Regions from separate parts of the Homo sapiens genome. Here region 1 is linked to region 2. Evidence: fine-mapped expression QTL. A gene starts in region 2. The other region holds a variant in brackets. All regions are shown on one strand. Distances are from middle to middle.

Region 1 (3,032 bases), 44 kb before region 2:
TTGCTGATTCTCTTTTCGGACTCAGCCCGCCTGCACCCAGGTGAAATAAACAGCCTTGTTGCTCACACAAAGCCTGTTTGGGGGTCTCTTCACACGGTCACATGAGACAAACATCAGGTCAAATCATAAAACAGAAAAAGAGCAGCATCAAACTAAAATGAAAAATGATCAAGTTTGAAAATGAATAAATTGAGCACTCCATTCAAGAAACTGGATGCATTAACATCAATAGAAACAATGAAAATAAATTCATAAGAAGAAACCATTGCAAAAGGAAACAGAACACCCAACAGGAATGACAAAGAATGAAAACTGAGTTTTCAAAAAATATGATGAGAAGTAAAAAGCCATCGGCATGAAGATAAATGAAAGTACAAACAAAAACACATTGAGGTAAGAAACAAGCAGCATAGCTAAAAATCTGGTGGAGATGTTTTACAATATTTAACAAAATCTTAGAACAAATTGATGATAATAAGGTTCTCAGTAGGACAAATATCCAAAAGTGCTCCGACAGAGAAATAAAACGACCTACCTTCGGTCAAAAACTCACAATTCCATATGAAAATACTTCAGGACCCAAAGAGAAGGTTTCCTGTTGGTAGCTAAACTCCAAATAAAGCCCCACGTTCCAAAGACCCTGGCTTTATACCTGGGCAACACCCTAACCCAATCAGGGCCCAGCTAATGTAATCACTGGGCTTGGTCCAGATTAGGCATCCCACCCGTCCAAGCCCCTCCCTTTCATTTTGCATTTTAAACCAATCTGAAAACGAAGCTAAGTAGTTAAAAATCAAGGAATGGAAAAAGGCAACCCTGACAAATACCAAACAAAAGAAAACTAAAGCAGCTATGTTAATATCCAATGTAGTTATAGAATTAAAAAGGCACATTTTACAGTTATTGAATAGAAAAATTCACCAGAATAATACAGTGATGAACTTTATGACCCTACGCATAGCACTGACACATGGAAAGCCAGGACTGAGAGTTGTTGTAAAGTCAGACAGTAAAATATGCAATTGTGATGTAGTTTTTAATTTTTTTAGCATTATTCTTTCAGAAACCAATAGAGCAGAGTAGAAAATTAATAATATTATAATAATATGTACAAGCTTAAGAACTTTGAGGAACAAAATTGCAACAATTAAAAAGCAAATGGAAAATGCTTCTCAGTACACAAGAAACATTTATAATAGATAAATTTACCAATACAGGACTACAAAGTAAATATCAAATTAAAATCCCATAGAATGCATATACAGAAAACAATCTTGACCAAAATGAAATGAAATTGAAAGTCAACAATACAAAAGCTGAATCCAACCATATTTATTTGAAAATTTATATTCACATTTCTAAAATCTTATTGATCTTCAGGTTGC[A/C]CTCAAGCAGCGAGTAAAAATGAAACAAAACAAAAATATGCAAAAGAGAATGAAATATAAAAATGATCATGGATAAATAAGCAAAAGGGAAAATGTATACTGAAATAGAAATGATTAATAAAACTAAAATATGATACTTTTAAATAAAAAATAAGTAGCAGTATTGATAACAAAGCACTTGCTAGGCCTAGGCAAGTGATATACAGACAAAGCCCAAAGCATTAGCAGTAGTGAAAAATAAAAACTTGGTAAATACACACAGTCAAAAATGGGGTTACTTTGAGGGGCACAAGGAAAACAACTTCCAACAGCCAAATCTCCAAGCCGAGCAAGAAAATATATAAATTGAATTATAATCCAAGCATGAAATAAATATGAGTTCGTACTGATGTAAATTAAAAATTAAATAAATTAACAAATAGCTGAGAAGTGACAAAATTCTTTTTCATAAGAATTCTAAATGAATTAGGCCAGGCACAATTAGGCTGGGCGAGGTGGCTCATGCCTGTAATCCTAGCACTTTGGGAGGACGAGATATCGGCCTCCAGAGATTGGAATGACTTGAGGTCAGGAGTTCGAGGCCAGCCTGGCCAATATGGTGAAACCACATCTCTAATAAATATACAAAAATTAGCCGGGCATGGTGGCACATGCCTGTAATCCCAGCTACTCAGGAGGCTGAGGCTGAGGCAAGAGAAACACTGGAAGAGGTTGCAGTGAGCTGAGATTGTGCCATTGCACCCCAGCCTGGGTGACAGAGCGAGACTGTCTAAAAAAAAAATTCTAAATGGATTAAATTAATTAAAATTGAGAGCCTTACTAAAATTCTGTGGGGGCAATTAAGGAAGGCTAGTATTAAGGGGAGGGGTGGCTTGCTATAATTTTAATTTACAAAATATATGTGAGTTTGTCCATTTCTGTGCATTATCTTCTTTTTTTTTTTTTTTTCCTAAGACAGAGTCGTGCTCTGTCGCCCAGGCTGGAGTGCAGTGGTGTGATCTCAGCTCACTGCAACCTCTGCCTTCTAGGTTCAAGCAATTCTTCTGCCTCAGCCTCCCAAGTAGCTGGGACTACAAGCGTGCACCACAATGCCCAGCTAATTTTTGTATTTTTAGTGGAGATAGGGTTTCACCATGTTGATCAGGCTGGTCTCAAACTCCTGACCTCAAGTTATCTGCCCACCTTAGCCTCCCAAAGTGCTGGGATTACAGGCATGAGCCACTGCGCCTGGCCACTGCTGTGCATTTTCAATGTTAACATAAATCTAAGCAACTGTCACTCTCACTTGTGTTATTTAGATGGTGTAACTGCTTCTTCTGCTTACACACTCTCCACAGAGCAACCAAGCTGATTATTTAAATGTATAAATCACATTTCGTCAACTGCTGTTTAAAACTTCCAGTGCCTTCTCATTTCAAGTTGAACACACACCAAATAATGTACTTCACATGAGACTCAGGGCCCTACATGCTTTGCCCCCTGTCTCTCTCCCTCTCTCCCTCTTTCTGTCTATGCCCCTGTCTATGCCCCAGGCACAAATGAGCTTCTTTGTATTCCTGGAAAAACAAAATCACTAAGTTCCATGGTAGGTCTGTTGCACTTGCTGTTCCCTGAAGGTGGGAAACTCTACCCTGGACCTCCCAATTT
Region 2 (2,500 bases):
TGAACCGTATGTGAAGAGTGAATGAAAAGGAATTTAAGTAGGCACTCCGGGATTTTGGTTTGAGTAACTAGCATGATGATCGCGTCTTTTAGTGAGACTTGTTAAGACTGGAGGAGGGATACCTTCGGTAAGAAAAATCAGGATTTTCATCTTGAACTCTATGACTGAAAGGGCTTTTTCTGCTTTTCTTTCTTCATTAAAAAGTTGCAAAGAATTTAGGGGTAAGAAAGCATTTAAATATTCAATTTTGTGAGTTCCTTACATTTTAAACTAAGTTGGGGAAGTTGAATTTTCATTTGTTTAACAAATATTAATTGAGCAGCTACTATACGTCAAGGTCTATGTGATGAGATACCAAGATGAGCTAAACAACCAAGATCTCTATTCTCAGAATTTGTTTTTATGGAAGGGAGGAGAGACGACTGGTAGGTTTTTGGTTTTCGGGTTTTCTACTTTTCGTTGTCTTATTAAAACTTAACACTTAAGTAGCCATCTTAATAATTACATCTTGTGCTCCTGGTAGTTGGGCCCACCATTGTAAACGCTCTCGTAAATACTGACATCTCCCCTCCCACTAAAACTAACGTTTTTTAAATAAGAAATTTTAGCAAACATTACGAATACAACCTTTGCTTTGAAGTGTTAATATTTTTGCAGGAATGGTACCTTTGTAAAGATCGTGGTTGCCCCGTACATATTTGTTCTTTCTTCATATCCAATTAAATGAAAACACTAGTTTTTCCGAAGCCCAACTCTCTAGGTTTGTTGGTTCTAGCTCAGGAGAAAGGATGGAAGCAGGAGTCGTTGGATTTAAACAGTTTGGTGTAATCCTTTTCCACGCTCTCTCCCGCTAGCCGGGGACGTGGTGTCGGCTACCCGGGGCTTTCCGTCCACGCAGTACCGGAATGAAGGAGTCTGGGAGGGGGTCGGGGACGGAAAAGACGGAAGAGACATTAAGTAATTGGTTCTTGAAGGTATAAAATGAGGTTTAGGGTCTACTCTAAGGCACTGATTTCAAACGCCCGCCCCCTGGGCCGCTTCGGCCCCGCCCCTTAGTGCCGTTACGCCGACTTCCACTTCGGCCACTGCGGATTGGTCGTTGCTTCCGCCCCCGAAGCGCTTGGATTTTGCTTCCGGGTCGTAGGCGCTAGCTCTGGGCGCAGAGGTTTCTGGGAGCCAAGAGTGGTAATGGCGTCTGTATGATCTTCGGAGCCTGCTGCATCGGACCTCGGCCAGTGTGAGCGGCAAGAGGATAGGAGATTATCTTTCTTATCGCGATGGGACGGGAAAGGGCAGTTGGGGTCGGAGTCGGCGGCAGAGTGCAGAGCGCGGGCGGTGGAGGCCCTGGAGCAGCGGGCTAGGGGCGGAACCGAGTGCCTGTCAGGCGCGTCTGGAGCTCTTGGGCCCGCCGAGGAGATCGCAGCGTACAGGCAGCTCGCCTACTGCGTAAAGCGAACCCCAGGTCCTCCCTTCACTACCCTTCGCACCCCTGCAGTGCTGGGCACGGGTGAAGAGGCAGCGAGTTTCTGGTTATAGCCAAAGACTAGCTCACGGGAGGCCGGAGTGATAATTCCGTGGGTGTGTGGGAAGGGGCGGCGCCCCCAGCGCCAGATAACCCTGTTTTCTTCTTTGTATACATGTCTCTACCCTTTTTGAAAGTTGAGAGAATTAGCATCGCCCCCCCCCCAAAAAATCCTCCCAATTCGCCCACCCTCCCCACACACTTGCTTTTCCGACACTAACAGGGTTTTAGTGACTGCATCTGCTGCACAGTATTCTTGTGACTGCTCCAAGCAGAAAGTAACTTGAGGAATGAGTCCCTGATTTTTGGCATCAGAATCCTCTGGGGGTGAGGTTCCTGTTTTTTTTGAACAGGCCTTAAATTATAACCCACAAACGATCTAATTTATAGTATGATGCCTGTTGTAGGAGAAAATTGGCTCAACAAACGGTTGTTTAAGAATTTTTTTCTGTGTAACTGTCATTGAAGTTTAACACACTTTTCTCTGGGACATTTAGTAACTTTGTCAGTGATATTTTTTGTTTGTTTTTAGCTTTTGTTTCTACTAGCCTATTTGCTATTGTGTGAAGTTTAGATAAAATGCAAACCTTACAGAGTCTGGTAGAGTAAGGTTGAGTTGGAAATTTTTAAAACTCAGTCATGGCAGTACTGTATTTTACTAGGGTTTTGACATGTCAAGTGTCATAATTCTTATAATCTATGAGGAATATCTCCATTCCACAGATGACAAAGTTAAGCCAGGTGACTTGCTCAAGCCCATATAGTCAGAAGGAGAATAGGGATGCAAACTCAGATCTTCATGACAGAATTTTTTGTACTAAGGCAAGCCTGAGAAGCCATATTCCTTGTACAGCCTAAGCCTCATAATTTGTTTTCTTGAAAACTTTTGTTTAAGAAGATTAAGCAGGTTTTGGGGAATGAGTTTTAGAACTTATTTTACCAGTATGGATATTGATTAATACTCTATAAAATGAGTGT

Direction of the effects. Alleles are on the strand shown, and positions count from the first base shown. SD is a standard deviation of normalised expression in the study named.
For the expression in aorta of the gene that starts at base 1,179 in region 2, allele A in region 1 goes with a higher level than allele C (small effect, 0.29 SD a copy in GTEx).

The links. PIP is the estimated chance that this variant, and not a neighbour inherited with it, causes the effect. A credible set is the group of variants that fine-mapping cannot tell apart.
Region 1: its variant is the best candidate, but not a certain one, in a credible set for the expression of CWC15 in aorta (GTEx, PIP 0.62).

What each region holds. Positions count from the first base shown.
Region 1 is chr11:95,016,461-95,019,492 of GRCh38, reverse strand. No RefSeq gene overlaps it. Among named protein-coding and RNA genes, the nearest start is that of KDM4E, 7.3 kb to the left of the region's middle. The variant A/C (reference allele first, on the strand shown) is at 1,386.
Region 2 is chr11:94,972,235-94,974,734 of GRCh38, reverse strand. CWC15 (CWC15 spliceosome associated protein) reads left to right here and starts at 1,179. Exons shown (of 7, transcript NM_016403.4): 1 at 1,179-1,237. It overlaps KDM4D (lysine demethylase 4D), which reads right to left and starts at 1,026. Exons shown (of 3, transcript NM_018039.3): 1 at 667-1,026. RefSeq lists enhancers at 773-922, 1,243-1,412, 1,127-1,902.